Homo sapiens: one gene and its partner. The protein of the gene in region 2 interacts with the protein of the main gene of each other region in a biochemical or structural test. Each region holds a gene or a part of one and is shown on either strand. Other genes may lie near its edges.

Region 1 (3,748 bases), on a different chromosome or scaffold from region 2:
TGGGCATGGTGGCTCATACCTGTAATCCCAGCACTTTGGGAGGCCAAAGTGGGTGGATCACTTGAGGTCAGGAGTTCCAGACCAGCCTGGAAAACATGGTGAAACCCCATCTCTACTAAAAATACAAAAAATTAGCGGGATGTGGTGGCAGGCACCTGTAATCCCAGCTACTTGGGAGACTGAGGCAAGAGAATTGCTTGAACCCAGGAGGTGGAGGCTGCAGTGAGCCAAGATTGTACCACTGCACTCTAGCCTGGGTGACAGAGTGAGACTCCGTCTCAAAAAAAAAAACAAACAAAACACAAAAACAACAACAAAAAAACCCAAAACTTCATTGGTTACATGACACTTCTTTAGATTGTTTACAAAAAGAACAGAAAAGTAGTTGTTGAAAAGATTAAATATTTTTAAATAGTAAAAATTACATAAATATCAGTTATCATATAATATTGAGTATTTAAAGTCCTTGGAATTTATTTTTCCTACTGCAGAAGCTCTTAATTGGTAAAAATTAACAAGCTGGGGGAATGTAGAGTATTACAACCAAGTAACACAGTATACTGTAATACTCTACATTCCCCCAGCTGGAAATAATCTCCCCTCCTTTAAACTACCATAGTATTCTGTGTATAGCAATTATTCCAAATAACTGTAATTTAGGGAAAACTTACCGTCTTATTTCTTCTTGAGATAAAGCTACTTGTTTTATTTCTTCAAGCTACTTGAAGGCAGAAATTGTGTTTAACTCATCAGTGCCTTGTACAGAGATATTCATTAAACATCTATTGAATGAATGACTAAAAAATCTTAAGGTCTTTTGTTTATACAAGTTATTCAAACGTTAAATAATCATATAAGTGATTAGTCAGATTTTTTAATTAGATTCCACTACTAAGGAAAAAAAAATAGTGCTTTATAGGTACCAGGATTGCTACACCTCAGTATTTCCTCATACTCATTCCTATTTTGATTTATCTGTGTTTATGATTTTTAAAAAACTTCCCAGCTATAAATCATTTATATAATGCATCAGTACAATGCACCAGTTATCTCCTTCCTCAGTACTGTGCTTTGCACAATGCCATTCTTCCTGAATATAAAATGTGTTGAAATGTAGTCATCTATGGAGTGCAAGAGGGTAAAACATAAATCAGGAAATTGTAGGGAAAATAAGTACTCTTAACTAAGATAACCTCAAATCGCCACAGTTTTGAAAAGCACCAAAACGTCTCCAAAATTGACTCTAAACAAATTGATTACTGTATTTTTCTTTAAGCAACACTATGCAAAGCTGGGACTGACCCCTATATTCTGAATAGTATTTTAAAAGGCTAATATACATCAGAATAACTTCTAAAATACAGCCAAAATGTTTGTAAGATATATCTATGTTTTTATTTGCGCTTAGGCAAGAAAGAGTGCTATTTTAAAACATAGTGCCTATCTAATAAAGCATGAGCTTTTAAAATAAAAAAATTACATTGAAATGTTTAAATGGATCATAAATTATCGGAAATAGACACATTATTAACAAACACTTTATTGCTAGAATTAGCAACCAGCATCAAGTATACAGAAAAAAAAGCTAATTATTGTAATTATAACATTATTTTAAGACCCCTTTATATACATTTCTCATTTGATCCTCTTAACTTTAATCTCCATTTGAAAAATAATAGAAATTATTATCCCATCTTACACATGATAAAACTAAAGTTGAAAATTATATGAAGTTATAATAAAAATGAATTATGAATGGTATGCTAATATGGCAGTGCCAAATTTAAAAAACAAGCATAAAAGCAACTGGAGGTAATAACTGATACAGCACATAATCTGCAATCTAAAATAAATGCAACTTAATTTAAGAAGATAATGCATCCTGGTATAGCCAAATGAGTATTTAGATCCAAAGAAATCCCTAGAACAGAGTTCATACTGGGGATGTACATCAGAATCACCTAGGTAGTTTTTTCAAAACATACATGTCCTTACCCCACTTGAGATGTTTAGAAGATAAAGAAATCTTCATAGTTTTTAAAGCCCAGATACACGTTGCTGAAAAAGCCTTCCAAGAAATTCTAACACACTCCTGATTAAGAATAATTGTCTTAAAACATGAAGTGGAAGCAACAATGCACATATTGAGAGAAGTAATCTAAAAATTCAGGTACAAATATGGACTGGGACGTGAGTAAATTAGGCAAAGCAATTCTGGCTACTTGTAACTTGAACTTGTGTTTATCTCCCACTTAAAAAAGAACCTTATTCAAATGCAAGCAAGAAAAAATGACAATATAGAGATAACCTTCAAATGCTTTCATTTATTTAAAAAGTAAATAATTTACAACACAAATATTTTAACTCTTGCAACACATCACACAAATGATTGTCACACCAGTGTGTCAACACCACAGTTGAGAATAGCTGACTAGACTGCATGTCTCTCATAAAGGTCCTCGGTGACAGACTTTGCCTGAGACCTAAAGGAGCCAATGGAGCTAACAATATATATTTTTCCAAATATCACCTCTACTCAATTTGGAGAAAAAGAAAATAAGATCTATTATTTTTTTCCTCAAACTAGGTCTCTCATCAGCCAAAGGCTATGCCAATATATCAGGCTGACTTTATTACTCCAATACATCAGGCTGACTTTCAACTGGGCCTTAAGAATCAAAGAAAGGAAATTTTCAGATGAGTATTCAACTGATTTATGCACTACAAGGTAAAAACTGTAAAAGATTCTGGCAATAGGGATTCTGTTACCAAGGGGGAAAAAAGGTAAGTCTTGAAAAAACTCTTGCACGTGCCAGGGTAAAATAAATAAATTTTAAAAGCTGTCCTAGATTATACAGGTATTAAAGTTAAAAACAAATGGCAAGACCAAATCACCTCTGTTTTAAAAATAAAAACAGAGGAGGCCCAGATAAATATGAATTTCAGAAAAACAATTTTATCCCATGCAATATTTGGGTCATGTGCCTACAAACAAAATCATTTTCAGAGAACCCATATGAGAGAAAGTTGGAACAAAATGAAATTCTGAGTCCCTTAAATTGTATTTGAGAAAGATACTATGCATAACCTAGATGTTCCTAATTATGATTCATTGTCTGGCTCCTCCCTAGTCATTACATTAACTCATTCCCTTTATCTGTGCCTATCATACGTCACCTTAATTATTTAACTCCATTGTTATTTCTATTTTTTCATGTGTTGCATTTCTGAAACATTCATGCTCATGTGTGGCATTTTACTTAAAAAAAGAAGTCATTTACTGTAGCTATCCATTCCTAACTTCCAGCTCTGTTATTAAAGATTAAGTTGCCTCACACTTACTTCCATTTCTCCCCTTTAATCGAGAAAAACAACAATTCTCTTGAAATTCACACTACAAATAGTTGGTAAGAAGTGAGGTTTACAAAAACAATTCATTTCTGTACTTCCTTCCTATTGTGTGACACAGAAGAACCATACTAAGAAAAATGTGAAGAAAAATAAATTATCTAAATTTTAAAACATTTTACCAAAGACAGCACTAATTATTAGTTAACAGAGCTATATGCCACACAAAGACATTTTGCTCTTTTTACTGGAACAATGAGAAGGTTTAAATTCAGACATAAAATATCTAATTTTACTTATATTAAATAGAATAAATATACAAAAGCAACAACTGCCTACTATGCATACCTTAGATGGGTTTGGGAACATTTTTCTTCACTATATCTATTATTAATTATGT
Region 2 (3,748 bases):
AACCACTCTGAGCTGTAATTGCCAAGGAGCTTTTTTAGGACCATGGGATTTTTTTGTTGGTCATGGGGGGTGGTTATTGGTTATTACTGTGATAGTCAGTTTTGCTTCCAGTAGAAAGAACAACGTCAGACATTACAGGAGACCTTCCATACATGTTTGTCAAGTAGGTGAATGATGGATGAATAAAATGAGGTTGCAGGGGAAGGGCTGTGGGAAAGCTGGCCTCCCCCCTGCAAAACGTTGCTGTCTACACTCATCCACCTTCCTTTCTCCAATGCTGGAGATGGAAAAGCTACATGTTCCCTTGCGGATAACCCTCTAAGGGCATTGCTGGCGTTAGGCTGATAGCACTTGGAATAGTGGGGAGGAATGAGGGAATAAATCATGGAGCATGGGCTTAGGGCTCACTTGTAGTAGGGTGCTCCCACGGCCTTCCTAGGCCCAGGGACAGTGAAAGAGGAAAGATGTTTTGGGACTAAGATTGGGGCTGTGTTGGGGACCTGAGCAGAGTGCAACCCAGCATGTCTGGGGCCTCCCCAACCTGACCCCACTTCCTTGACTGCTGGGGTTGACCAGAAACTGTAACTACCCAAGGCCAGGGTTTCACCCTTTGAGGAAGAAGAAACTCCACAACCACTTTACTTTTTAGACAACAGTTTCCCTGAGAAGACGCTCTTTCCAAAAAAACATTTTCATGCCCAATTCCATGTGATGTGGGACGTTGACACAGGAGACTGTCTTCCAGGACCCAGGAGAACTGCTCCTTTAAAGATAATGGGAGTCCCCTTTCCCTACCCGTACCCCTGGGCACTGATAGGGAAAGATGAGAAAGCAAGAGAAATTGAGATAAATGGGCAGGGGATAGGAAGCAGTGCTTCCCCATCCCATCGCCTACATGCCCTCCCCCAAAGATGCCAGCTTGTACGGACAATTAATAGATATTTCTTTTAAAACAAATGAATGATCCGGGACCGGTGGCTCACAGCCTGTAATCCCAGCACTTTGGTAGTCCGAGGCAGGCAGATCGCTTGAACCCAGGAGTTCGAGACCAGCCTGGGCAACGTAGCGAGACCCCCGTCTCTACTTGTAGTCCCAGCTACTCGAAAGGCTGAGGCAGGAGAATCGCTTGAACCCAGGAGGCGGAGGTTGCAGTGAGCAGAGATCAACCACTGCACTCCAGCCTGGGCAACAGAGCAAGACTTCGTCTCAAAAAAATAAAAAATAAAAATAAAACAAATGAATTAAGAAATAGAAGTGAAAGAAGGAAACAGTACATGCGTGGAACTAATGAATGGAGTGAAGGAGGAAGGGGGAAAGAGTGAATGAATGAATGAATGAATGAGTGAATGAATCAACGAAGGAGTGAGTCAAGGCCCGGGAACCACAGACTCCAAGCCTACGCAGAGCCCGGGAAGGGGGATTCCGGAGGGGCGGGGCCTCTTTCCGGAAGCGCCCGCCGGGGGCGGGGAGGGGGCGGGGCCATCCGCGTGAGGCGACCCTGTTGGTCCGGAGGGGCGGGGCGAGGAGGAGGACCCGCTTGGGCGGTTCGGCTGCCCACAGTAACCGCTGGGTGGACCTGGCCAGCGCTCCGAACCTTGTCCTCGCTGCGCGCCGGCCCCTCGGAGCCCCACAGCCCGGGAAGGAGGCCGCCGCGGGCCGGGCGCCCGCTCTGCCAAGCGGACCCGCAACCCGGAAAGGCGGCGCGGCGGAGCCTGGAGCCGGATCCTGCTCAGACCGGGCCCCGGCCGGCCAGAGCCGCGGGCATGTCGGAGGCGCGGAAGGGGCCGGACGAGGCGGAGGAGAGCCAGTACGACTCTGGCATTGAGTCTCTGCGCTCTCTGCGCTCCCTACCCGAGTCCACCTCGGCTCCAGCCTCCGGGCCCTCGGACGGCAGCCCCCAGCCCTGCACCCATCCTCCGGGACCCGTCAAGGAACCACAGGAGAAGGAAGACGCGGATGGGGAGCGGGCTGATTCCACCTATGGCTCCTCCTCGCTCACCTACACCCTGTCCTTGCTGGGGGGCCCCGAGGCTGAGGACCCGGCCCCACGCCTGCCACTCCCCCACGTGGGGGCGCTGAGCCCTCAGCAGCTGGAAGCACTCACTTACATCTCCGAGGACGGAGACACGTGAGTATGGGGGCTAGGCTGAATCGGGATGCTAACTCTGGGCCTGCCCAAGAGCCGCAACAGGTCGGGCACCCCCACTCCCCCGTGAAGATCCTTCAAGTCCCCATTCGCTCTTCCAAACTCCAGACTTAACTCTCAGCCCACTTTTGAGGTCCAGCTAGGCCATGGAATCATCTCTGTCCTCCCATTTCGGGGTGGGCAGAGCTGGCAGGACCCTTAACCCAGCCAGCATCTTGGAAATCTACCAATAATCCACCCTTAGGAAGAGAAAATTCCCCTGACCAAGTCCAGTTTTTTTGTTTCTTCTTGCTGGGGAAGGGGACATCCTTATTTGCTCAATATCTGGGATTCCCAGTTCCTGACCTCAGAATGCTCTGTCTCAAGGAACAACAGGTGCCAGTTACAGGTTGCCAGTCGGGGCCAGGAAGCTAGGCATGGGGGGTGCCACCAGGGTGTAGGTTTGGGACTGGTCCTCAGGAGGATGGGGTGAGCCAGGCTGGGGCACTCTTGCCCCAGCAGACAGACAGGCGGCTGGCTGCCCCAGCTTACTTCCTCCTCTGCTAAGAAAGGGGAAGTGAGGGCTAGAGTCAGCGTCCCTGACATCCTCTACCTCCAGAGCCCCCAGTCCCACTAACTGTCGTGTCTCACTCCCTCACTTAACCCTTCCTCCTCCAGACCCAGATGGAGTTTGGTGGGAGTGGGCCAGAGGGCAGTTGAAGTAAAAGGCAGTTGTGTGGGATGGGTTGGCCAGTTGAGGATTTAGCCCCCCAGGAAGAAGAAAACATTGACAGAGGAGGGAAAGGTTGGGAACTGGGGATGAGAAATAGAGTTGGGGAGGGCTGGAATCCCTGGTCAAGGGTGCTCATATAAATAGGAGTAGGGGAGGCAGGAGGTGGCTGTCCTAACCTGCTTTTTGGAGATGCAGGGTCCTAATCCTGGGTGGCCATTGATAAAGACAGCTGGTGGACCCAGTGGGTGGGAGAGGAGTGACCCAGTCCTTTCTGTACTCTGCCTGGATCACCAGCCCTCAGGCCCAGAACCCCAAGGTTTTGGGGGCTGCACGCAAGATACCTCTGATGACCTTTGATCCAAGGAGAGGGGACTTTTGACATTGCCGTCTTTTGTTAGCCTCTCAGCCCCAGCCTTTTCCATCTCTAGTTAGAAGCAGGTGTTGTGTCCAGATTGGGTGTGTGTGTGGAGGGGAGAAATGTCCGGGCTCCCCAGCGAGTCCCCAGAGAGCAGGGGGCACTTTCCTCCCTCTGTTGGAGGTGTCTGGGCTGTGGGAGGTATGGAAGTGGGAAGAGGAAGTGGGAGGAGGGGATACTGGGGGAGAGAGGGAGGTGGCTGCAAGAATGTGACCCAGAGAGCAGGCCCTGGCCTAGGGGATTTCCAGAGCAGTTCCTCCCTCCCTCCGTCACTCTCCTGGGCCTCTCCTGCTGCCTGCTGCTAAAGCCTGCCACCCTCCTGCCCAAGCAGCCCCCTCCCCAGCCCAGACGGGCCTTTTAGCCAATCTACCCCCCTCACTAATGCCCCAAGGCAGCTGTCCCGGCCTAGACCCTCCATCACTGGCTTTCGTTTTCCCCACCTGACGTGGGGAAACCCCAAGACTGGAACTTCCCC

The links. Proteins that work in one complex are often made in the same cells at the same time.
Region 1: the proteins of NFKBIE (region 2) and REL form a complex in vitro, tested with the Homo sapiens proteins (2 studies listed by BioGRID).

Annotation. Positions count from the first base shown.
Region 1 is NC_000002.12:60,884,478-60,888,225, reverse strand, and holds part of REL (proto-oncogene c-Rel), read right to left. Parts: intron 1-3,748. UniProt on the Homo sapiens protein: Proto-oncogene that may play a role in differentiation and lymphopoiesis.
Region 2 is NC_000006.12:44,263,362-44,267,109, reverse strand, and holds the start of NFKBIE (NF-kappa-B inhibitor epsilon), read left to right. Parts: upstream 1-1,558; 5' UTR 1,559-1,763; coding exon 1,764-2,128; intron 2,129-3,748. UniProt on the Homo sapiens protein: Sequesters NF-kappa-B transcription factor complexes in the cytoplasm, thereby inhibiting their activity. Sequestered complexes include NFKB1-RELA (p50-p65) and NFKB1-REL (p50-c-Rel) complexes.